Linked DNA regions of Homo sapiens. The protein of the gene in region 3 purifies or fractionates together with the protein of the main gene of each other region. This does not show direct contact. Each region holds a gene or a part of one and is shown on either strand. Other genes may lie near its edges. The genes, in order: CPSF7, SGSM2, DCAF13, UTP14A, FAM76B, FTSJ1 and UTP15.

Region 1 (3,500 bases), on a different chromosome or scaffold from region 3:
TTGTTTTGAGACAGAGTCTCACTCTTGCCCAGGCTGGAGTGCAGTGGCGCAATCTCGGCTCACTGCAAACTCCACCTCCCGGGTTCAAGCAATTCTCTGCCTCAGCCTCCCGAGTAGCTGGGATTACAAGCGCCCACCACCACGCCCGGCTAATTTTTGTATTTTCAGTAGAGACGGGGTTTCATCATCTCGGCCAGGCTGGTCTTGAACTCCTGACCTCGTGATCCACCTGACTCGGCCTCCCAAAGTGCTGGGATTACAGGCGTGAGCCACCGCACCCGGCTGTTTTTTTGTTTTGTTTTGTTTTGTTTTTGTTTTTGTTTTTTTAATAGACACATTGTCTCACTCTGTCACCCAGGCTGGAGTGCACTGTCATGAGGCACCATCATGGCTCTGTAACATCAACCTCCTGGGCTCAGGTGATCCTCCTGCCTCAGCCTCCTGAGGGCTAATTTTTAAATTTTTTGTAGAGTCTTGCTTTGTTGCCCAGGCTGGTCTTGAACTCCTGGCCTCAAGTGATCCCCCTGCCTCAGCCTCCCAATGTGCTGTGGGATTATGGGCATGAAGCCACTGCGACTGGCTGTAATTTTCTTTTGAAGCAAAATGAAAGCAGGAAGGTTGGGATAAAAACTCTTAAGTAATGGAGAAGTTCAGTTAAGATTGGTTGGATCCAGGGGCTCTGGCTGTGTCATCCAGACTTTATCTGCATCTCTCAGCTCTGCTTTTCTCTGTTGCTTTCATTCTTAGACAGGCTCCATATTGGTAGGGAGTCAGAGGGGGTGCTGTGTCTTTAGGTTGCATCCTACCAGCTTAGCAATCCCAACTGAAGGAAAACTTCTGGAAAGATTGTTTCTATTATATAAGCATATAGGAGCAGGTGTTGTCTCTGCTTCTATGGAAATCTTTAAAATAGGCCAGAGTGGCTAGGGGTCTGTCTGTAGTTCTTGGAGGCTACTGCGTGACCCAGGTAACTTCAGGGTCCTTTCTTAATTTTGTGGTTGCAGATTTATAAGTCTCTAGGACTTCCCATTTCTCTGTCTCACATCAAGTACATTAGGAAGATGTCCTTGGCCGAGCACGGTGGCTCACACCTGAAATCCCAGCACTTTGGGAGGCCAAGGTGGGTGGATCACGAGGTCAGGAGATTGAGACCGTCCTGGCTAACATGGTGAAACCCCGTCTCTATCCCGACCGAGACCATCCTGGCTAACACGGTGAAACCCCATCTCTACTAAAAATACACACAAAAAAATTAGCCGGGCATGGTGGCAGGTGCCTGTAGTCCCAGCTACTCAGGAGGCTGAGGCAGGAGAATGGCATGAACCCGGGAGGCAGAGCTTGCAGTGAGCCGAGATCGCGCCACTGTACTCCAGCCTGGGCGACAGAGTGAGACTCTGTCTCAAAAAAAAAAAAAAAAAGATGTCCTTGATTATTTGCCTGCTTGATCTAAAGTAATGGTAATTGAAAAGGAAGGTGAGGGGAAAGAATAGTAGTTCTTTTTGGTGTCTTTGGGATGGCGATATCTGGATGAAGAAGGACAAAGAAACTCACCACCTGTGAGCCCCTATAGTTCATGAGCAGTAGCTGGAATGTAAATAGTTGGAAAATTAGCAGTATTTTGCCCAGTGACAACCTACTAAAAACCAAAATACTCCTTTTAGGTTTGGCTACTGCCCTCTGTCTTGTTCTTTGGCCATTAGCTTAAATAGATTTATAGCCAGGAATTGTTTTTATCTTCTCCCAAACAAGTAAGTGGAAAGATGAAAAATTACTAATATTTTTTGTCTCTGTTCTCTGTTGTTAGCCACTCATTTATTCCACAAAATCCTAGAGTGCTTAACATCATTGAAATCTAGGTTAACTCATGTAGAATCAACAGTTAGGCTGTGGGCTCCAGGTACTTCTTTCTAGATTTTGCAACAGGTTGAGTTTGGGGAGATGCCCATGTATCCTCTGGAAAAGCAGACGCTATTGTAGATGGAGACCACAAACAACTTTGGCCTAATTCAGTCTCAGGTGGGCATGAGGGCAGGCATTAGAGTTGGTCTTGGTCCAGTCCTAACTCCCTTTTCTTGTTTGAGTCTGCACAGTTGCTAGTGTTACTTGTGGGTTGAAAAGCACATGTAGGCTACAGTGTATGTCTTTTGGAGCTGACTGGGATAAGAGTGAACAGGAAGGTGATGATTGACCTGTGCAGAGCATGCACTGTCGTCTTTGGGGCTGCATTCAGTTTAGTAGTTAGAACATAAATGCATGTCACCATTCCTGATGGCTTTGCTCCTGACAGCCTTATGACAGGGAAATTACCAGCGAGATCCACTGATCCAGCAGTAGTTTGAGAATTAAACATCTCAACCTGAGTCTTTAGCTGTCACTTTGCATTATTTCTTCCACTTATAAAATGGGGCCAGGCACAGTGGCTCATGCCTGTAACTTCAACACTTTGGGAGGCCGAGAGGGGCAGATCGCTTGAGCTCAGGGACCAGCCTGAGGAACATGGCAAAACACTCGTCTCTACCAGAGATACAAAACTAGCTGGGCATGGTGATGTGCTCCTGTAGTCCCAGCTACTTGGGGGTGCTGAGGCAGGAGGAGTCCCAGCTACTTGGGGGCACTTAGGTGGGAGGATCACTTGAGCCCGGGAGATAGAGGCTGCAGTGAGCCATGTTTGTGCCACTGCACTCCAGCCTGGGCAATAGAGCAAGACCCTGTCTCAAAAAAAATAGTAATAAAAATAAAATAAGATGAGACTATTTCTCCCATTATGAGGATAACTCTCTTTTGGTAACTTTGAAAATGCTGTAACAATATTGCCTAGAAAACAGTCATTTGACTTGTGTAGGCCCATGACAAGATGGGAAAAATTAACTCTGAGGCAGGTTTTCTACTTCCTCACTTTTCCTGGTCACCCGTTTGATATAGTGGTTATTGCATCTGAATAATAGTCTGAAAGAACTGAATCAGGCACCCCAAGAATGTCAATTTCTTACATTCTCACCCTAAGGACTCTTAATTCCATCTGTAGTGACCAAGTTATGGCTTAGGAAGTTTCATGTTGGGAAGATGGTACATGGTCCTCATTTATAGCAACCTTTTAGTTAGAAATGAATCATATTTATATTCTATGATGACAGCTGTTCCCTGAGAGTGAAAGGTACATTTTGTCCAGAGGCAGCAATAGAACAGTAGCCTTCTTTGTCCATCTTTTCTCGGCGTAAGACCCAGTTCTGGGGCCTGAAGGCTAATTGGCCCACTTGAAGGAATCTCTGATTTCTGCCTGCATTCCAACATTGGCACCAAAATGTAGCCATGGAGATTTAAGAATTCAGTGCTATGGCTTGCTTCTCTTGGTGTACAAGTTATCCTCTGCAACCTGTGTCTTCAACTTTTTGTAGTTCTCAACTATGTCAGTTATCTCATTATTTTAGGACATTATCCTACTTGAAATATAGTCATTCTCACGTCATTCCTGTCCTCGTTATCCATTGAAAACTGAGCTT
Region 2 (3,500 bases), on a different chromosome or scaffold from region 3:
GATAAACACCTGGGGGGTGAACACAGGGCGGCTCCACCTGCACTCCAGCACCTTCCCGCAGCCCACCGCCTCCTCGGGCCAGAAGGGAGCTGGAATGCAAAACTCTTCACACCCCCTCTCCCACCACAGCCTCCAACACTGTGGCCACGGGGCACCAAGCCAGCTTCTGACCCAGCCAGCCAGGCGGAGAGAAACAAGCCTCTGGCCAAACATGAAGACACGTCTTCAGCCCTGCTTGAAGGAACAGCCCCAGGTCTTCCTGTGGCTACTGAAGGGAAGTAGGGGAGCCAGGGGGCTGAACGCTCAATGGCCAGTTTGAACTCAGTCTCATTCTAGAAACGCCTGAAGTCATGAGACCGGGAGAATGGCCTTAGTGTTTTGGTGTGGCTGGGTGGAGAGAAGCCTAGAGGTTTTAGGAAAAACAAGTTTTGCCTTATTTTCAGTACTGAGTGTTCAGCAGGACAAGACAGGAACGTTCTGTAGCAAGCACCTAGTCAGTTCCATTAGCCCTCAGGCAAGGTGGGGAGATGTAGGAAGGAAAAGCAAACATTCTGCCTCCTAGATACAGTCCACCACCATGGACAAGGCACGAGGAAAAGAAGAGACACATACAGAGACTGTTTGGGATTTTTCTCTCTCTGTTTTCACCACGTAGGGAAAGCAATGCTAAAAGTAGTTTCTACTTTGGGCAGGAAGCATGAAGTGCTGGGTAAGGCCACGGTTCTGTGGCAATCTAATACGCCAGCGAGGAGCTACTGCTGTCCATGAGCTCAGCAGCTGGGCACTGGCACAGACAGATTTTTACAAAACCCAAAGCCAGAGAGAGGGAGAATGTGTTCCTGGATAGGGGATTAAGAACAAAGCACGTGGGAAATGACAATGTGCCTTGTTTGTTCTATTTCTTTTTTTTTATTTTATTTCTGAGGCAGGGTGTCTCACTCTATGGCCCAGGCTAGAGTACAGTGGTGGTATCACGGCTCACTGCAGCCTCAACCTCCATGGCTCAGGTGGTCCCCCCACCTCAGCCTCCCGAGAAGCTGGGACTACAGGCGCACCCCAACACATGCGGCAAAGGTTTGCATTTTTTGTAAAGACAGGGTTTCGCCATGTTACCCAGGCTGGTCTCAAACTCTTGAACTGAAGCAATCCTCCCACCTCTGCCTCCCAAAGTGTTGGAATTACAGGCATGAGCCATCACACCCAGCCAGTTATATTTAACTTACTTCAACTTACATTTTCTGTTAATGTTGGTAAGGATTTAGTAAAGTAACAAGAATACACATTATCTAAAGAGGCAATTTTAAAGAAAAATTAATAAAGCGTCCTTAAAATTGAAACTTATCAGTGTTGGTTGGGCCAGGCAGTCACAGTTTAGAACTTGCTGTTCAAAAGGCAGGAGTGATGCCAGAAAGAGCTACCCTCCCGTGCTCCGAACAAGCCTGCCATAGTCAGTTCTGTACAGTGACAGGCAACATCGCGGGGAGGAAGGATCTCGCCAGTCGACACCAATGGGGCTGCTCTACGGGCTCCCCTATTCTCAGGCCCACAGATCTCAGGAAGCCTCTGCAGTCAGAGGATATGGGTGGAGAGGGGAAACTGAGACCCAGAGACGGGAAGTGCTTGCCCAGAGACATTCAGCTTGTCAGTAGTGGATCTGGGACTAGAACCCAGCGCTGCCTGTTGCTAGCTTTGAGGTCTTTCTACAAGGAGGAGGGCTTCCCTAAATCCCAGTAAGTCCATCTTTCCCTATAGTTGGCTAAAACTGAGCACAATGCACTCTCTCACTTTATTCCTACAATACCCAGAGAAGTAGGCAGCAGAGGCACAGTTAGCCATTTCCAGTTGGAGAAAATGAGACACAGGCACCTTAGGCCTTTCTCGCAGGGCCCCACCAGTTCCCAGAGGTCAGGCTGGTGCTCAGGACCACTGTGCATAAAACGCGGGTGGCCCCCGAGACCCCCAACCCTCCAGGTCCCGTCTGGCTCACATCGTTGCTGATGGTGGAGTCTCGGTGGATGAGGCGCTGCACGTGGCTGTCGATGCTGCTGCCTGAGGAGAACTTGGTGCGTGTGGCTGGGTGGGCCTCCCGCTCCCGCTGCCTCACCACCACCTCGCAGGCCTTCCACTCTGCCAACACCTGCTGGTACCTTGCTGCCACCACTGCGTCCACCTGTACTCAGACCACACCACGACCATGGGGGAAGCGTGCACCAGGCCCTCCCCTTCAGGAGCTGGGCCTGCACTGGACCTTGGGTCCTGAGTCTCAGACTCAAGACGGGCCTCAGGGTAAGGACGGTGGAGCTGCCCTGCCATGCTTCTTTCCGGCTGGGAAGGGGCTGAGGCTTCCAAGGTCCCCTCCCTGGCGTCCCCTGGCCCAGCTCCCCATCTCATCAGCCCCATGGGAACAGGCTCCCCTCACCTGCTCCATCTCCTTCTTGCTCATGCCGAACTTGTAGTGGCCAAGCAGAAAGGGCCAGACGTCCTTGCGGATCTCGTGCTCTATGCCTCCGTAGTAAACTTGCCGCAGCAGCTCCAGCTCTTTGTAGTTCTGAGGGACCCGGGGAGTCAAGACTGTGCAGCCTCCACAGTCACCGTGGCCCAGCTGGGTGAGCCCCATCCCACGGAGAATGGGCTGGGGCGGGGCCTGTAGTGACTGCTGAAGCCCAGGCAAGGCCTGCTTTGGGGTGGCCACGTCCTCCCGTGCCCCAGCTCACAGTGGGATGAGATCTCGTTCTGCTCTCCTTCCTTAAGGGGCAGGAAATGGCGCCCGGAGAGAGGCAAAGCTTTGTCCAGGGTCACAGGGCGATGTGGAGGCAGGACGGCTTCCCAGTCCAGCCCCCTTCCCGTGTCAGCCCCAGGCCCAGCTGCAAGAGATTCTGCCGGGACCCTGGTCACTCCGTGGCATCGGCCCTGGCCTGTCAACCGCACCCACTGGCACATTTTACCCTGAAGCCCTCACTCCTGCCCGCCCCAGCCCCTCGACCTGTGGCCCTGGAACCCCAGGGTTGGCACCTTTTTGTCCTTCTGATACTTGCTCCACACGTCCTTGGTGAGGCCCGCGGAGGCCCCCGGGGGCCGGTCAGGTGGGATAACGCTATGGTGCACCAGCGCCGACAGGTGGGTCCGCACCGTGGACAGGTGGCGGCAGTGTGCCAGCCCTGCGGTGGGCAGCGGTGGGCAGCAGGAGGCTGGGACCCAGGGCCGCCCGCCCCCAGCCCGCCACAGCCCGGCGCGCCCCACACTCACAGCCGTAGAAGGCCCGGGACACGATCTGCCTCTTCATACTCTCACACAGTAGCCTGAGCGGCAACCTGTGGCAACAACCGGGCTCAGCAGGGAGGGGCTGCGGCCCCTCTGGTGGGAGGAGAGAGAGAAGGGAGGAGGCTCTGTCCTGGGGGGCAGGTAAGGCACTGGGGAGGGTGCGAGGAGGAGGAGCCGCAGCCCAGCAGCCGTCAGTGGGTGCCCTGTCCCTGCCTGCCACCTGGACAGAGTGCTGTGGG
Region 3 (3,500 bases):
CACAATGATGAAATCGCCCAATGACTCATTTCTCAGAATGCATCCCCATTGTTAAGTGACATATGAATATAAATGGCTTACTGGTAGGCACATACCTGCTTCGACTTTTGTCTACAGGAAAGATTCGAATAGATTTATCGAAACTAGCAGACACAAACTCCTTCCCAGTGGGAGAGTAATCCACATCAAGCACTGCAGATACATGATCCATATGGACCATTACAGGAGTGTCCAGTGCACGCATATCAAAAGTATATAAGCTGTAAAAGAATTTTTAAATATTTGACACATATTTCTAGAAAGATGCCATATGCAGTACTAAAAGATACCACTGAAAACAAGAACCATTTGCAAAACAATGCACATCTAAACAAAAAGCTCAATGCTGTACACAAGCAGGTGAGGGATAAGGAAAAATTTCAACAGTTTTTATGATTCCTTAAGACTCCACTTATATATATACCAACACATTTTCCACCCTATAAATCTCATTGTAGAAAATGTGGAAATTTCAAAAAAAGTAGAGTACAAAAATTACCTTGAATTCTACTACCCAGAGGCCAGTTATTTAGTACAGCATAATTTTTTAAAAAACCTTTTTCACCATACTATTTAAATACATACTTTTAATAAAATTGAAATGTTATGTAAAGCTTTATATTCTGATATTTCACGTAGCATATTAATGAGCATTACCCATGTTATTAAACAATCTTTGAAAATATTTTAATGGCTGTATATATAAGTTCAAATAATTTATTTCCCTATATTTTAATAGTTTCCAACATTTTATTATATATAATGCTTATTAAATTCCCAACGTTTGGATTTTTAACATTCAATCTTTAACTGAATGGGACAGGTTCAATTAAATCTGGACAGATTCCTACAAGTAGCATTGTTAAGCTTAAAGGCATGAGCATTTTTAGGCTTGATTTGAGTTGCCAAATCACTGCCAACAAAGTTGCACTAATTTATACTCCTACTGGTGATATGTAAGAGTGAACATGGCCTTTCAAAGGGTGAATCAAAATGAGAAACTATACTTTATGCACAATTGGTAAAAACAATGACTTCATGAGTTTCAAGATTCAAAAATTCTTAATCTAATGGCTAAAAGAATAGTGCTTCAAATGAACCAACATGAACAATGGACAAAAGTAATACAGCAATATTGTGACCAAGTTCCTAATATAAAAATACTTGAAGATGCTAAGATTAGTGAGTAGAAGTCTGAGAAGAGGATATCTACATAGTTTCAAAGTATCTCCCCAAAGATATATAATAATTACAAAAGGAAAAAAAAGTAACTCTTTAGTGGAGAAACCTGGCAGACACCACCCTAACCAAATGATCAAGGTTAACATTACTAGTAGTAAGACATTGACAACTGCTTTACAGTTCCTGCCTAAGAACAGTGGTTTTCAGCTAGGTTTGCTTGGTTCCAGCAAACTGCTTTTTAGTAAGATGCTTTATTTCTACATGGGAAAAATGATAAGAATTCCAATTCTAAGCATATCAATTTGTGTACATGGAAAACCTTTAAATAAACAAAGTTCCACATTATAGGATTCATTAGGGATCATCTATTCTAACCCTCACCTTACAGATGCTGAAACTATGATATAGAGTTAGTTTAAATGACTTGCCCAAGTTTATACAGTAATTACTGGTCGGCCTAGACTTGAACTTAGGTTTCTAATTCAGAATGACTAGAATATCTAAAGGGCAATAAAAGAAAAAAATACTTACAAATATAGAAAAGGGATACAAAAGCAAGATCATTTTCAAAGAGCAATTATGATACTCCAACAGTCACTTATTATAAGGGATATGCTCTTTGTTTCAGGTGGCATATGCAATTCTTTTCAAGGCAAGGAATGAGAAATTCCGAGGACACTCTGAAAAACGGTACCTTGCTAAAATAGCTTATTAGAACATTCTTTAGAAATCTTAATGAGGTTGGTCACAATAATGCTGTATTACTCTTGTCTTTTATTGCCTTTAACTGGAACAATGCCACTTAATTTCAAAACATCAATAAAGGTTAAAAAAAAAAGCTTCAATTACTGTGGTTTGGTATTGCTAGTTAATGAGAGTCTAACTGAGCTTCTTTTATTTTTTTAAGACACCAGGGTCTTGTTCTGTTGGCCAGGCTGGAGTGCAGTGGCCCAATTACAACTCACTGTAACCTCAAACTCCTGGACTAAACCTCTTTTTAGCAGAAAGTCATAAAAGATGCTTTTAGTTGGTACCACTAAAACATCATATAATAAATCCTTTTATGAGCTAACACTACTACTTTTTTGCTTCCAAATCTACATAGTGGAACATAAAACAATACAAAGATCTAAAGTTCAATCCACCAACAAACTTCTGCCTTCTTAAAAAAAACATGTATTAAGAATCTATCAAAGGCATAGCGCTATAATAAATGCTTTGGGAAAAAAAAAGATAAGATACTCTTTCCTCCCTGGGAGACTAATCTCCCCGCTTTAATATCTTAAAAAGGGGATAACATGCATGTCCCACCTACCTCATATGGATACTGAAAAGATAACTATAATTTTTCTTCCATCTGACTGAACAGTGATAGCTGATAACATGACCACATGAGCATCAGCTACCTGATACTCACCGCAATACAAACATTGCAGGCAGATATTTTCATTTCCATTAAAACATGTATGGTTCAGTCATTATTTATAAGACCTACATCAAACATCAGCCAACTTCTTCTGTAAAGGGCCAAATGTTAAACATTTTCAGGCAAGTGGGCCATAAGGTCTCCGCTGCAACTATTCAACTCAGGCATTATAGCACAAAAGCAGCCATATCCAATATCTAAATAAGTAAGTGGGTGTGGCCATATTCCAATAAAACTTTATAAAAAACAGGCAACAGAAAGGATTTGGTCCACGAGTTGTTTACTGTCCCTGGTCTACATCATTCTAAATACTGACGAAATAAATACTTTTCTAAGAAGTTCTTCTCCAATTTGGAAAACTTTTTAAAGCTAAACAGATGACAGTTTTCAAACTTTATAGGTATACCTACCTAGTGGTATATATTTTATTAGTACGACTTATACAATTAAGCCATTCATGATAGAAATACACAAGTTTTTAAAAGAGGGAAACTTACTTATAATCTTCATTTGCTGCTGTAAAAATGAAAGCTTCCATAGGGTTCCAACAGATTGTATTTGTTCTCATATCTAAGATAACCTGAGAAAGGAAGAATGGATGAATTTCCCACTTCCTTTCCTTTTCTTTTCCCCACTGATTTAAGCAAATATTTCATAAACACCTATTATGTGTAAAGTACTCAGCTCAGTGCAATGGGAAGAGAAATCAATCAGTAATTGCTTCTTAAATACACAGGCAGAATAGTAAATATAAAAATAGAAATGCTTAACTCCCAGTCTCCTAATCTCAAACAACTTACAGTTTAGTCAGAAAAATGTGACACATAATAAAAGTTAAAATATAAACAATAAA
Region 4 (3,500 bases), on a different chromosome or scaffold from region 3:
CAGGATGGTCTCGATCTCCTGACCTCGTGATCCGCCCACCTCGGCCTCCCAGAATGCTGGGATTACAGGAGTGAAAATTTCATAACTTTCGACTATCACTCTCAACCCCTTCTTTGAAGCTCCAGTCTCATATTCCATGTGACTAGCAGGGATCACCTGGGTCCCCCATATGCACCTTAAACTTAGTCCAGTCCAAAGTAAGCTTCGCATTTCCTTTCCCCAGACTTCCAAAACCTATACCACCCCCTTCATTCTGCAACTCAGTTAACAGCATAACTCCCTACCCCAGTCACTTAGGTTGGAAACCTCAGTCATTTGATTCCTTCTTGACCCCTTCACTGTCTCCCTCTCCGCCAGCTTATACAGGGGGCTAGACCTGCAAATTCTGTCTCTGTAATAGCCCTTATGCTCCTATTTTCTCTTCATTTTCATTTTCACTGCCCTAATCGAGGCCCTCATTGAACCTTTCCTTTGGAACTTTACATATATCCTCTACACAATCAGCAGGATTTTCTTGCTGAAACACAGTTGATCATTGCTCTCCTGCTTAAAATCCTTCAAAGGCTGTTCACTTACAGAATAAAATAAAATTACGTAGCATTTTAGCTATGCTGGACAACACGTTGTTCTATTACATACCACTCCTTTCCCTGTGTCTGTGTTTTTTGCTTATGCTCATCTGTTTGGATTTTTTTTCCTCCTGACAGAATTGTACTTAGGCCTCAAAGCCTAATTCAAAAGGTCACTTCCTTCCCTAAGCCTAACCTACCTCCCAATAATATTTAATGGTAATTTCCTCTGTGATTACCCCTATAGAATAACGTAGCAGTTATGTTATTTAAGGGTAACATAAAGGGTATTTAACCCATTATGTTATGCTGTTTGTGTTGTATATGTCTCTGCTCTCAAAGGCTGTGAGCTCTATGAGGACAGGAACTATCTTAATCAATTGTGTATTCCTAGCACCCCATACAAGTGCCTGGAATATAGCTACAATCAATAAATGTTTGTAAATTGAATTGAATTGAAGGGACATTACAACATTGTAGTATAAATCACTTTGTAGCCTGAGATTGATCACTACTGCAAATACTAAAAGTGGAAGAACATATACCTTTACTATTCAGTAGAATAGTTTTATGGTTAAATCAATAGCATCGTGTAACATGTGATGATGTGCGTTTATGCATTTATCCAAATATTTGTAAGTTTAATACTGACCACGATGTATATGGCTATTGAAGAAAACCACACATAATATGTGTGTGAGGTTTGAAACTAGCTCTGTTGCCTAGGGCTGTCTTTGTGCCTTGCCAGAATGTGGACCGTGGCATGATCGGCCTGAATATTTAGCCATCCTCATGATAGCATGTGGAATAACTGGTTTACAGTTCATTCGTTTCATACATACTCTGCCTAGCATGTAAAATTAACTGGAAACTGAGGAATTGGAGCCAAAGTTAGAAAATGAGGAGAGTTCAACTTGAACCATCAGGAAACAGGCTGATTACATGAAGGTCTTTTTGTTTGTTTGTTTTTAACATAATAAATAGAGATGGGGTTTCACCATGTTGCCCAGGCTGGTCTCAAACTTGTGGGCTCAAGCAATCCTCCTGCCTCAGCCTCCCGAAGTGCTGGGATTACAGGCCTGAGCCACCATGCCCATCCTATATTTTTTTTCAGGCAATATCCTTTTGTGCTCAAGAAATTAAGACACACACCCCACCACAAACTACATTTGAAGACTCTGCCAAAAAAATGCCATGTTTTTTCTCATTTTCTTTCATCAGTAATTAATGATACCAAGAACACTTATATGCATGGTTTATAGCAGTTGGCTATGGTCAAAAAAAGTTGGGCTTCCCCTCTGAGACATTTGCAGATATATGTCCTAGGTATACCATCAGTGGCAAATAATGCTTATCTTAAGATCTAATCTCACAGGGCATGCTGGGCTCACGCCTGTAATCCCAGCACTTTGGGAGGCCAAGGCAGGAGGATGGCTTGAGGCCAGGAGTTTAAGACCAACCTGGGCAACATGGCAGGACCCTGTCTCTACAAAAAATAAAAAAAGTTAGCCAGGCATGGTGGCTTACACTTGTGGTCCCAGCTGCGCAGGAGGCTGAGGCAGAAGGATCACTTGAGCACTAGAGGTGGAGGTTGCAGTGAGCTGAGATTGGAGTGCCAGTGGACTCCAGCCTGGGTGACAGAGCAAGACTCTGTCTCAGAAAACAAAAAAAAAAAAAAAAAAAACTAACCGCCCCTTCCCTCTAGAAATATTCTAAAAGAAGGCTTATGATATGAATTTGAGATTCCTAACTATAAAGTAATAGTTATGTGCTTCAAATGATACATAACAATACAGGGACTCAAGGGCAATGTGCCTAGATTCTTAAGAGAATGGAAATCAGTTTAACATATATTGGTAATCTGGGCCGGCGCGGTGGCTCACGCCTGTAATCCCAGCACTTTGGGAGGCCGAGGCGGGCGGATCACGAGGTCAGGAGATCGAGACCATCCCGGCTAACACGGTGAAACCCTGTCTCTACTAAAAATACAAAAAATTAGCTGGGCGTGGTGGCAGGCATCTGTAGTCCCAGCTACTCGGGAGGCTGGGGCAGGAGAATGGCGTGAACTCAGGAGGCGGAGCTTGCAGTGAGCCGAGATCACGCCACTGCACTTCAGCCTGGGCGACAGAGCAAGACTCCATCTCAAAGAAAAAAGAAAAAAAAAAACATATATTGGTAACCTGAACACAGTGATCCCCCTCAGCAGTATTAGAGAGTAGCCTCAGCGTCTCCCTGCTGAAGTTGTCTTATATAAGAATCAAATAAGGCTTTATTTATACTTCTGACAACAAGACTGGAACCCCCTTCTCTTGCTGTAACAGCCAATCCTATCCACTTATGATTCCAATTATAGTGTCATAAGTTAGAGAATCATAGGAATGTAAAGAGAGAAAGCTGTAAGAGCATGGCTTAAGACTCAGAATGTTTTGTTGCTTCTTTAAGGCAAGAACTCCCCTGGAGCAGGAAATTTTCAACCTCCTCCATAAGAACAAGCAGCCAGTGACAGACCCTTTACTGACCCCTGTGGAAAAGGCCTCTCTCCGAGCCATGAGCCTAGAAGAGGTAAGTGTGTCATAGGCCCTTCAGCACACCCAGGCATGCCACGCTTCTCCTAGCATTTGTCCTCTGGCCCAGGTGTCACTGTAAGTCTCATTTGTTGTAGGCAAAGATGCGACGAGCAGAGCTTCAGAGGGCTCGGGCTCTGCAGTCCTACTATGAGGCCAAGGCTCGAAGAGAGAAGAAAATCAAAAGTAAAAAGTAAGGAGGCCCCTGTGAACTGGCCTTGGGTTCCACAGAAGAAAGTCATGTGGTTCATCATGAATTCTTTGGAGAGAACCTTTGATGCAGCAACTAGAGTCATGCAGATGAGGTCCCAAACAGGAGTGACTAGCCTTTTGTTCCCCCCAAACCAACCTCATACAGTTTTGCCAA
Region 5 (3,500 bases), on a different chromosome or scaffold from region 3:
AACACATTTTCTTAAAAGGTTGATGGAAAGTTATTATGCTGGCTCTGTACTTTATCGTACAAAAGAGTTTTACAGAAGACGAAAGAACAAAGGAAGAGCCTGGGATCTTCACATTCAAATTCATCTTCTTCATCTCTTACTGAGAAAGACCAGCATCATCCAAAACATCATCACCACCATCATCACCATCACCATCGTCACAGCAGTAGCCATCACAAGTAAGTACTTTGAAATCATATTTTCTAAAACTCTTCCTTGCATTTTAATGCCATTTATTGATGTTTACTTCTTGCAAATATTGACTATGTGCTAGTCTAGTTTCCATTGTACACAGTAAGCATCTTGAGTGTCTAAGGCTGTGTCTCCATTTTATTCAGTGTAGAATGTTATATACATGAAATATGTTGAGCTGTTTACCATAATACAGATATTTAGGAAAATCTATAAAATTATAACCATGTAAAGTCAAAATACAAGTACGTCAGTTAATTAACACTTAAATAACTTATCAAAAGCCTCAGTATTCTTTTTTTGTTTAAATAATTGTTAAGGTTTTATTTGAAAAATTATATTTTAGTTGTCAATTTGTTTTAGTAAAAACAAATCGAAACAAACCAATGACTGGGTTTGGAGAACATATTTTAATACTATAATTTGTTACTATGATAGAAGCATTTCTGATCTTTGTGGTCCCCAAAATATGAGCAATATTTTTAACTAATGATACTTTGTGTTTTTTTCAAACATATATTTAGGAACTCTACTTAAATAGAGACAACTGTAGTTTTCCCTCAGTATGCTTGAGGGATTGGTTCTAGAACCCCCTCATAGACCAAAATTTGCATATACTCCAGTTCTGCAATTGACCCTGTGGAACCTGCCTATAGGAAAAGTTGGCCTTCTATATATGCAGGTTTCACATCCTCCAAATACTGTATTTTTGATCCGTATTTGGTTGGGAAAAAAAAATTCTCCTATAGGTGGTCCCATACATTTCAAACCTGGGTTGTTCAAGGGTCAGCTGTACTTGATTTTTAAAGTGACCTGTGGGGGGAGTTATGTAGTAGTAGTAGTACCTTAACCCTTGATGTGTGTGGTATAAAGATTTTTTAAAATGCAATTTTAGTCTTCACGGAAAAATCAAGAACATGAAAATACAAATTAAACTGACAAACACAAATTAAAATGGAAAAAACGGACATATGGCATGCCCATTTTCAGAATAATTTATTGTTTGTTCTTAAATTTTTCTGTGAGTCTTTAAAGTTTCAGATAGTTATTTAAAACAGAATTTACAAACAACTGATGCCCACCTCATTTTGGAACACATGCAGTATTTTTAGAATGTAATGTAGTTCTGTCTAATTAGTAAGATTTGTTGTAAACTGTATCCAATCACCTATTAGATTATGAGGTTACGTTGAGGTTAGTGATGTTTAATTCTACCATGTTGTAGTGTTTTCTAAATGTGGCAGTGGTAGACTACAATGCAGTGTCTTCTCTTCTGGCTGTTTTGAAGAAACCTTGTGATCTTTATATCAGAGTATTTCAAGAAGCAAAATAATATAAGTCTACCTTGTTTTTGCTTCTTGCTTTAAGAAAAAATATGACAAAATGACTATATACCATAATAGCATATGTCAGACCTACTTCTAAGACTCCCAAAATGTCTCCTTTCCCTATTCTTTACAGATAAATTTGTCTTAGCATGATGTAAAAGGACACAATCAGATTATGTTTGTGAAGACTAAAGTATGTGACAGCAACTTAATTTTTTGAAAGAATGACAGGTTTCAAAAATAAAGGGAAAGAGAACAGTATTGAAAATGAAAGTCTTCAATTTTTTTACTTCTGGTTACTTATGAAATACAAACACTATTTTCTATTTGATGGCTGTTGACCATTTGATGAACAGTTACTTTGTAGGGTCCTATCTTAAGTTCAATAGATCAGAATGAAAATGAGGAGCATTCATATTGTGATAGATAGTGATCGGCAGGGGTAGGGGATGTGGTTGCCAGGTGGCACTAAGGTGGGTCTGAATCTAGGAATGGACAACCCTCAGAAAGATAAGATGGGAATTCCAAGTGTTTCTGTCAGTGATATTAATGTGATTATTCTTAACTTTGAGATATGGTTAGTGCTGTTAGTTCATGTATGGCTTGTTAGGCTTATAATGAAATTTGTGGGAAAAAAAAAAAAGGGACAACTGCATTCCTCAATAGGATTTCCATTCATTCACAAGTAAGAATAACTCACTTGATGGAATTATTGCTATTAACATTTTTTTCCCAACTTGGTACTTGTTTACAGCTGAGTCTTAAGGTTTGTTTTTTTCTTTTGCTTAAAAAACTTCTACAGCTGAACCAATAGTAAATTTTAGACACAAGTAAACATGTATATATATATATGTCTATTTTGTATATGCTAGCACTGTACTAAGTGATTTTACATATATAACTCATTTAATGCTCATATCAGTATAAGGTATGTATTACATATGAGGGAACTAAGGCTGGGGATGTTAAGTAATTTGCATAAGGTCACAGCTCAGGTATTCTAACATCTTCTAAATCGTATAAATACGTGGCATCTGGTTCATAGGAGATGCTCTCTACATGCTGAGTGAATAAGCTAGGGTTAGTGAAGCATTGACTGATATGCAAGTTTAGGAGGAAAAAAATGAAGGATTCATGATGAATTATAAAGTGATTATTAGTATTAGGGTAAAATAGAAAAGGAGTATTACAGTATTAATTATGAGTAAAAGTAAAATAATTTGTTACTATGAAATTTCTCAATAGTTTCAGCGTAACTTCTCCAGAATACTAACTAAAGAGAGCTCTATGGACTTTGGAGAGGATTCTTAAGAAAACTAGGAAAGAATCAAAGAAATCAATATATTTCCCCATTTAAATTGAAATACTATTCTGAGCAACTTGAGTTACTCCAAAAGAAGAATCTCTACTTCAGATTATTAGGAAAGCCTTAACTTTAAAGATACAAATTTTGTGTCTGAAATAGTAAGGGCAGCCAAAGTACAGTGATACCTAGACACAAGCACGAAAACTACTTGTGTAACCCACCCTTTGTATGATATTAAATTGAACTGTGGAGATCCTGATTATAAAGAATTCTTGAAGAACTTGAGATGGTTAGCAGTCATTTTATTAAAATTTATTTCATCAGAATGTGATTTATTCAATATGTATTAGCTTAGTCTGAAAACTTAAATATACCTTTCTCTGAAGAAAATATTATAAACATAAAATTTGTATCCATTGAGAAAGAATGTTAAATTTAGATGTATTAAATAAATAAATGTCATTATTAGATGTCATTTGTGTATTTTTCAGAATCAGCAATCTAAGTCCAGAAGAAGAGCAGGGACTGTGGAAACAGAGGTAAATACATTGCTGTATTTTCTGAAGTATTTTGAAATGTATATTTATAAATGTGATATCCCTTCAACTTTGTTACTTAAGTCTTACCAAAATCAG
Region 6 (3,500 bases), on a different chromosome or scaffold from region 3:
TCACCTCTTCAGTTACTCCCTGCCTCTCCCTTCCGCACTCAGCTTTCTCCCACATCTGGCAACTTCTCCCTACCTCTGCTGCCTGTTCTCTCTCTGCCTCTCTCTTCCTCCCACTTGCACCCCACCCTTTGAGTTTCATGTCTGTTGTCTACCTTTCCCTGCTCTCATCTCTCTGCAACTGTCCAATTCCGTTGCACTGTTCATTCATTTTCAGCCAGCCAGCCATTCAACACACATTTACTGAGCACCTATTGTGTTGGGAAAACATTCATGAATAAAATTCCATTAATCTTTAACCTCATGGAGCTGATGTTCTAGTGGGAGCAAATGGGAAAGAAAATAAATGATTCAGCTCTGTACCATTAAAAGGGGATGGGGCCAGGCATGGTGGCTTCCACCTGTAATCCCAGTGCTTTGGGAGGATGAGGTGAGAGGAACACTTGAGGCAGGAGTTTGAGACCAGCCTTGCAACATAGCAAGACCCTGTCTTAAAATATTAGCTGGCATGGTGATGCATGCCCATAGTCCCAGTTACTCAGGAGGCTGAGGTGGGAGGATCACTTGAGCCCAAGAGGTCGAGGTTACAGTACACTTTGATCGCACCACTGCACTCCAGCCTGGGCAACAGAGTGAGACCCTCTCTCTAAAAAAACGGGGTGAGGAGGCCGGGCACAGTGGCTCACGCCTGTAATCCCAGCACTTTGGGAGGCTGAGGTGGTCAGATCACCTGAGGTCAGGAGTTCGAGACCAGCCTGACCAATATGATGAAACCCCATCTCTACTAAAAATACAAAAATTAGCCAGGTGTGGTGGCATGTGCCTGTAATCCCAGCTACTTGGGAGGCTAAGACAGAAGAATCGCTTGAACCCGGGAGGCGGAGGTTGCAGTGAGCTGAGATCGCACCATTGCACTCCAGCCTGAGCAACAAGAGCGAAACTCCGTCTCAAAAAAAAAAGGTGGGGTGGGGGATGGGTACCATAGGGAAATCATTGAGCAGGAGGAAAGCAGGAGTACCTGTTGGAATTTTAAATCAAGTGGATGGGGAAGGCCTCACTGACTTAACAGCAGAGACTAAAGGAGGTGGGGGAGTAAGCTATGGATATGTCTGGAGGAAGAGCAATCCAGGAAAAATTGCAGCCCGTGCAAAGGTCCTGAGGCAGGAGGGTGCTTGCTATGTATGAGTAATGACAAGCAGATCACTGTGGTTGGAACAGAGTGAGGGGGGGAGAGTGGTAAAAGGTAACATCAGAGAGGTAACAGGGGACAGATCCTATAGGGCCTCGTGGGCCATGGTGAGGCTGTTGGCATTTTCACCGAGATGAGAGCTTGGAGAAAACCATGAGAGGGTTGTGAGGAGAAGAGGACTGTGCTGGGCTTGGGCTACTATGAGCTGTGTGAGGGCCAAGGGCAGAAGCAGGGGCTCCGGGGTGGAGTAGTCCAGGCAAGTGATAATGGGTGAGGGCAGTGGTGGAGAGGAGAAGATCAAGTCAGATCTTTTGAAAGTAGATGTGTTAATGGCTTCGATGTGGGTGTGAGGAGAGGATGCGGGGGGAGCATCAGAGGTGACTAAGGTTTTGGATTTGAACAATTAGAAAGCTCAGATGAGATGGGGAGGATGGTGGGAGGAGCAGGTTTGGGGAGGTAGGTCAGGAGTTTGGTTGTGGATGTATTGGAGATGTAGAATCTGATTTGTGAATCTGGAGTTCAGAGGAACAGTCTGGGCTGGAGGTGGAAATGATAATGATGCTTGTGTGTGAGGTTGTTTTAGAATTGAAATGAGTTCCTAAGGGTTAGGAGCTCAGAATATGCATCCAGTTGGCAGACAGTAATTTGCATCTGGAACCTTAGCAGTAAGACAGCCTGGAAAATGTATTTAGTGTCTGATCTGTGTGGTACAAGAAGATGCACAGAGCCAGATGGGACCCCCCTAACGCTGTTCCTCTTGCCACAGTAACCGGTCTCCATGATGTTGATGAGTATATGCAGGCCCAGCTCCTCCTAGCTGTGAGTAACCCTGGCCACCCCTGACCCACTTTGGCCCCCTCCTGGCTGTCTCCACCTCAGCCTCAGCCGTCTGTCCTGCCCACAGGCTCTGAACATTGCTACACATGTCCTGAAGCCAGGGGGCTGCTTTGTGGCCAAGGTAAGTCTCAAGGAACTTGGTGGAGTAGAGGGAGGTCGCTGAGGGCCACCCTCACCCGCTGTCTTTGCCTTCTCACCCTGCAGATATTCCGAGGCCGGGATGTGACGCTCCTCTACAGCCAGCTGCAGGTCTTCTTCTCCAGCGTGCTGTGTGCCAAGCCCAGGAGCAGCCGGAACTCTAGCATCGGTCAGTGGGGTGGAGGGGCCAGGCAGGCAGAGGGGGATCTCTGGGACGCCGACTGCACGAGGAGGAAGCGGCAGTCATGCCTCACTCCACCTTCCCCTGGCAGAGGCCTTCGCTGTCTGTCAGGGCTATGACCCTCCCGAGGGCTTCATCCCGGACCTGAGCAAACCCCTGCTGGACCATTCTTACGGTGAGAGCTGGAGCATGGGCCACCCTGGGGGACTCTGCCACACCTTATGCAATCTAGGTCCCATGAGGGCCCACAGTCTCACCCCCTGGGGGAGGCTCTGTCCCCTCATGGGAATTTTTTTCCCAAGGGGATCCTTAGCCCCATTCTCTGATGGAAATCCCACCCCTTTATGGGTATTTTGTCCCGGGAGGAGCTTCAGCCCAGGCAGTCCTCTAGTGGTAACTCTTGGGCCTGGTGAAAATTCCATCCCAGGAGGATCCTGAGCCCTGCCCCAGTGGAGACTCCACCTGCCTAAGGACATTCTCTCCTAGGAAGATCTCAGTCATGTCCCAGGTGGAAACCTCCTCGGTGTGAAACTTTTGCCCCTTAAGCCTCTAGCAGGAAGAGACAGAGCCTGCCCCTGGGATGACATTTGAGTGAGGGAGACGTCATCCAGGCAGCATATAATCCAATATCAGGTGGACATAAATGCAGTGAAAAATAGCAGGGCACCGATGTTTTAGAAGGGGTGATTATGGAGGGCCTCCCCGAGGAGGTGATCTGAACCAAATGAAGGATTTCTGGTGGGGTGGGAAGAGAGTAGCTGGTGGATATGTGGGGAGGGTTTGGCAGCCATACCGCCGCCTGTGTCATGACTGGCCCCAGGCATCCTGACCTTGTCCTCAGTTGTCTCCCCCTGTTCCTAAGACCCAGATTTCAACCAGCTGGATGGTCCCACCCGCATCATTGTGCCTTTTGTGACCTGTGGGGACCTGAGCTCCTATGATTCGGACCGCAGTTACCCACTGGACGTGAGTGCCCAACCAACAGTAGGTGGGTGGGAGGGAGGCTGTCCTAGGTTACCAGGTCCTCACCATCTCCCTACCCCTCTGTCCCTGCAGCTAGAGGGCGGCTCAGAGTACAAGTACACTCCACCCACACAGCCCCCCATCTCGCCACCATACCAGGAGGCCTGCACGTTGAAGAGGAAGGGGCAGCTGGCC
Region 7 (3,500 bases), on a different chromosome or scaffold from region 3:
TTTTGCTGGAATTTATGTACACTTCACAAATATTATTTAATGGTCATAACAGTTCTGTGAGGTAGGAACTGTTATTACCAATGACCCAGGAAGTGGTGCATCCAGGATTTTACCAGGCAGCCTGGCCTGGACTCCCTCACTCAGCCTCCATGCTTTGTGGAGTGTCCAGAGAAGAATGCTTTTCAGATCTTTAATATGTTGAATCTGTGGGCAGAATATCCAACTAACGATGATTTCTTTTTATAGGAGGTCGTTATGTTAAAGTCTGGGACATGTTAAAAGGAGGACAATTGCTAGTATCTTTGAAAAATCATCACAAAACCGTGACATGTTTATGTCTAAGCAGCTCTGGACAGAGGTTACTCTCTGGCTCACTGGATAGGTTGGCATTTTAATTTTTTTGTATATTATTATTAGTGTACACCTGTTTACTGCTTGAGGAAATGAGTTATTTCAGCAATATTTGTGATAAGTATACAGATAATGATTTCCAGGAGAAAAAAACCTGTTGAGTTGAAAATAGTTTTGACCTTTTGTTTACATATAGCTACTTCTTTTCTTTTCTTTTTTTTTGAGACAGAGTCTCACTCTGTCACCTAGGCTGGAGTGCAGTGGTGCAATCTCGGCTCGCTGCAACCTCCGCCTCCCAGGTTCAAGTGGTTCTCCTGCCTCAGCCTCCTGAGTAGCTGGGATAACAGGCACGCGCCACAATGCCCGGCTAAGTTTTTTATTTTTAGTAGAGACGGAGTTTCACCATGTTGGTCAGGCAGGTCTTGAACTCCTGACCTCGTGATCCGCCCACCTCAGCCTCCCAAAGTGCTGGGATTACAGGCGTGAGCCACCACACCCGGCCACCCATAGCTACTTATTTTCTCCTTTGACACAATTTGTTTTAACTTGTATACTTAAACAACATTATTGAACCATTTGAATGATAATCTTTCAAATAATGTTATTCTATAAACCATCTTTTAAAATCATTATTGTACATTCATATATTTTGAAGTTTTTTTTTTTTTTTTTGAGACAGAGTCTTGTTCTGTTGCCCAGGCTGGTGTGCAGTGGCACAATCTGGGCTTACTGCAACCTCTGTCTCCCAGGTTCAAGCGATTCTCGTGACCCAGCCTCCCAAGTAGCTGGGATTACAGGTGTGCAGCACCATGCCTGGCTAATTTTTGTATTTTTAGTAGAGACGGGGTTTCGCCATATTGCCCAGACTGGTCTCGAACTTCTGGCCTCGTGTGGTCTGCCCACCACGCCCTCCCAAAGTGCTGGGATTACAGGTGTGAGCCACTGTGCCTGGCCTGAAAAGTTTTTTAAAAATTAGATAAATTAATTTTTTTTTTTTTTTTGAGATGACATCTCGCTCTGTTGCCCAGGCTGGAGTGCAGTGGTGGGATCTCAGCTCACTGCAACCTCTGCTTCCCGGGTTCAAGCGATTCTGCCTCAGCTTCCTGAGTGGCTGGGATTATAGGCGCTTGCCACCTTGCCCGGCTAATTTTTGTATTTTTAGTAGAGACAGAGTTTCGCCGTGATGGCCAGGCTGGTCTGGAACTTCTGACTTCAGGTGATCCACTCACCTTGGCCTCCCAAAGTGCTGGGATTACAGGCATGAGCCACCACGCCTGACCTAAAAGTTAGATAGCACATTTTATTTAGCCTAATATCTAATGTAAAAATAAAATATATATTACATATAAAATATAATTTCAGTATGTAATCTATGTCAAAATTATTAAGATACTAGAAATAAATTAAGCATCTAAACATGTGCACTATGATACAATAATCATATTTTAGGTTGGTACAGTGGCTTACACCTGTAATCCCAGTGCTTTGGGAGGCTGAGGTGGGAGGATCACTTGAGGCCAGGAGTTTGAGACCAGCCTAGGGAATATAGTGAGACCCCATCTCTACAAAAAATTAAAAAAATTAGCTGGCCACAGTGGTACACACCTTTAATCATAGCTACTAGGGAGGCTGAGGCAGGAGAAGCACTTAAGCCGGAGTTTGAGGTTGCAGTGAGCTGTGATAGTACCACTGTACTCTATCCTGGGTTACAGTGATACCCTGTCTCTAAAAAAAAAAAGATAATATTTTATAAAAATTACTGTCTCAGTTTTTAAATTAAAATTAGATAAAATAAAAAATTTAGTTTCTCATTTTCACTAGCCACATTTCAAGTGGTCAGTAGCCATGTGCAGCTAGAAGTATGGCACAGTTCTAGAATTTACATGATTTATTATTAATTTTTTTTTTTTTTGAGACAGGGTTTTGCTCTGTCGCCCAGGCTGGAGGGCAGTGGCATGATCTTGGCTGACTGCAACCTCCACCTCCTGGCTTCGAGCGATCCCCTCGCCTCAGCTTCCTCAGTAGCTGGGACCACCGGCACGCGCCACTGTACCTGACTCATTTTTGTATTTTTGTTGAGATGGGGTTTTGCCATGTTGCCGAGGCTGGTCTCAAACTCCTGAGTTCAACAGATCCTCCCACCTCAGCCTCCCAAAGTGCTGGATTACTGGCGTGAGCCACCGTGCCCGGCTTACATGATCTATTTTTTATTATTTTATTTCCATATTTTCATTTTTTTCTGCTCTTATGAAAAACTTTAGTTTTCAGCATGTTAATTAAAAAGTATACAGTCATCTCTTGGTAACTGAGGAGAATTGGTTGTGGATGCCCAAGTCCCTTATTTAAAATGGCATATTTGCATATAACCTACACACATCCACTGTATACTTTAAATCATGGCTTGCTTATTTGTAATACCTAATACAATGCAAATGCTATGTAAATAGTTGTTACACTGTATTTTAAAATTCTGTATTGTTTATATATTTATGGATATTTTCAATCCATGGTTGGTTGAATCTGCAGATGTGGAACCTGCCATAAGAAGGATTGACTGTACATATTTTAAAAGCTAGAAAATATTTTTAATACAAAGGAATTTTTTATGTAAATACATGGCAAGTTTACACATGTTACTGAAATCATGTTACTCGGCAATTTGGGACTTGATTCTTAGGTATGTTCCTAAAAGCTAAGTGTAAATTGGCTCTATTTGTGGTGGTTTCAACCAAGAGTGATTTTTGTTCCTCAAGGAACGTTTGACAATATCTTGAGAAAGTATTGTTTTTTATCACAACTCATGGTACTTACCATATAGGGGATAGAGGCCAGGAAGGCTGCTAAACATCCTACAATGCACAGAACAACCCCCACAAAAAAGAATTCTGTGCCCCAAAATGACAGTAATTCTGAGGTTGAGAATCCCTGATCTTTGGCTTCATGTGTACTTTCTTTCTTTCTTTTTTTTTTTTTAATTTATTTTTTTAGAGACAGGGTTTCTTCAAGTTGCCCAGGCTGGTCTTGAACTCCTGGGCTCAAACAATCTGCTGTCCTTGGCCTCCCAGAGTGCTGGGATTACAGGTGTGAGCCATCACACTTGGCTTTGTGATGTGCTTTCATTGATAATTTTTTCTTTTTTTTTTTTTAAG

Evidence for each region.
Region 1: the proteins of DCAF13 (region 3) and CPSF7 purify together in Homo sapiens (affinity purification with mass spectrometry, with the first as the bait; one large-scale study listed by BioGRID). This does not show direct contact.
Region 2: the proteins of DCAF13 (region 3) and SGSM2 purify together in Homo sapiens (affinity purification with mass spectrometry, with the first as the bait; one large-scale study listed by BioGRID). This does not show direct contact.
Region 4: the proteins of DCAF13 (region 3) and UTP14A purify together in Homo sapiens (affinity purification with mass spectrometry; 2 studies listed by BioGRID, with this or other methods). This does not show direct contact.
Region 5: the proteins of DCAF13 (region 3) and FAM76B purify together in Homo sapiens (affinity purification with mass spectrometry, with the first as the bait; one large-scale study listed by BioGRID). This does not show direct contact.
Region 6: the proteins of DCAF13 (region 3) and FTSJ1 purify together in Homo sapiens (affinity purification with mass spectrometry, with the first as the bait; one large-scale study listed by BioGRID). This does not show direct contact.
Region 7: the proteins of DCAF13 (region 3) and UTP15 purify together in Homo sapiens (affinity purification with mass spectrometry, with the first as the bait; one large-scale study listed by BioGRID). This does not show direct contact.

What each region holds. Positions count from the first base shown.
Region 1 is NC_000011.10:61,405,976-61,409,475, reverse strand, and holds part of CPSF7 (cleavage and polyadenylation specificity factor subunit 7), read left to right. Parts: intron 1-3,500.
Region 2 is NC_000017.11:2,372,001-2,375,500, reverse strand, and holds part of SGSM2 (small G protein signaling modulator 2), read right to left. Parts: intron 3,312-3,500; coding exon 3,247-3,311; intron 3,159-3,246; coding exon 3,013-3,158; intron 2,549-3,012; coding exon 2,420-2,548; intron 2,171-2,419; coding exon 1,988-2,170; intron 10-1,987; coding exon 1-9.
Region 3 is NC_000008.11:103,432,386-103,435,885, reverse strand, and holds part of DCAF13 (DDB1- and CUL4-associated factor 13), read right to left. Parts: intron 3,228-3,500; coding exon 3,145-3,227; intron 261-3,144; coding exon 96-260; intron 1-95. UniProt on the Homo sapiens protein: Part of the small subunit (SSU) processome, first precursor of the small eukaryotic ribosomal subunit.
Region 4 is NC_000023.11:129,916,164-129,919,663, forward strand, and holds part of UTP14A (U3 small nucleolar RNA-associated protein 14 homolog A), read left to right. Parts: intron 1-3,011; coding exon 3,012-3,131; intron 3,132-3,231; coding exon 3,232-3,326; intron 3,327-3,500. UniProt on the Homo sapiens protein: May be required for ribosome biogenesis.
Region 5 is NC_000011.10:95,779,783-95,783,282, reverse strand, and holds part of FAM76B (protein FAM76B), read left to right. Parts: intron 1-18; coding exon 19-218; intron 219-3,334; coding exon of another isoform or gene 3,335-3,356; coding exon 3,357-3,404; intron 3,405-3,500. UniProt on the Homo sapiens protein: Negatively regulates the NF-kappa-B-mediated inflammatory pathway by preventing the translocation of HNRNPA2B1 from the nucleus to the cytoplasm.
Region 6 is NC_000023.11:48,479,199-48,482,698, forward strand, and holds part of FTSJ1 (tRNA (cytidine(32)/guanosine(34)-2'-O)-methyltransferase), read left to right. Parts: intron 1-1,952; coding exon 1,953-2,005; intron 2,006-2,090; coding exon 2,091-2,144; intron 2,145-2,227; coding exon 2,228-2,330; intron 2,331-2,433; coding exon 2,434-2,517; intron 2,518-3,204; coding exon 3,205-3,308; intron 3,309-3,398; coding exon 3,399-3,500. UniProt on the Homo sapiens protein: Methylates the 2'-O-ribose of nucleotides at positions 32 and 34 of the tRNA anticodon loop of substrate tRNAs. Requisite for faithful cytoplasmic translation.
Region 7 is NC_000005.10:73,572,243-73,575,742, forward strand, and holds part of UTP15 (U3 small nucleolar RNA-associated protein 15 homolog), read left to right. Parts: intron 1-246; coding exon 247-382; intron 383-3,500. UniProt on the Homo sapiens protein: Ribosome biogenesis factor. Involved in nucleolar processing of pre-18S ribosomal RNA. Required for optimal pre-ribosomal RNA transcription by RNA polymerase I.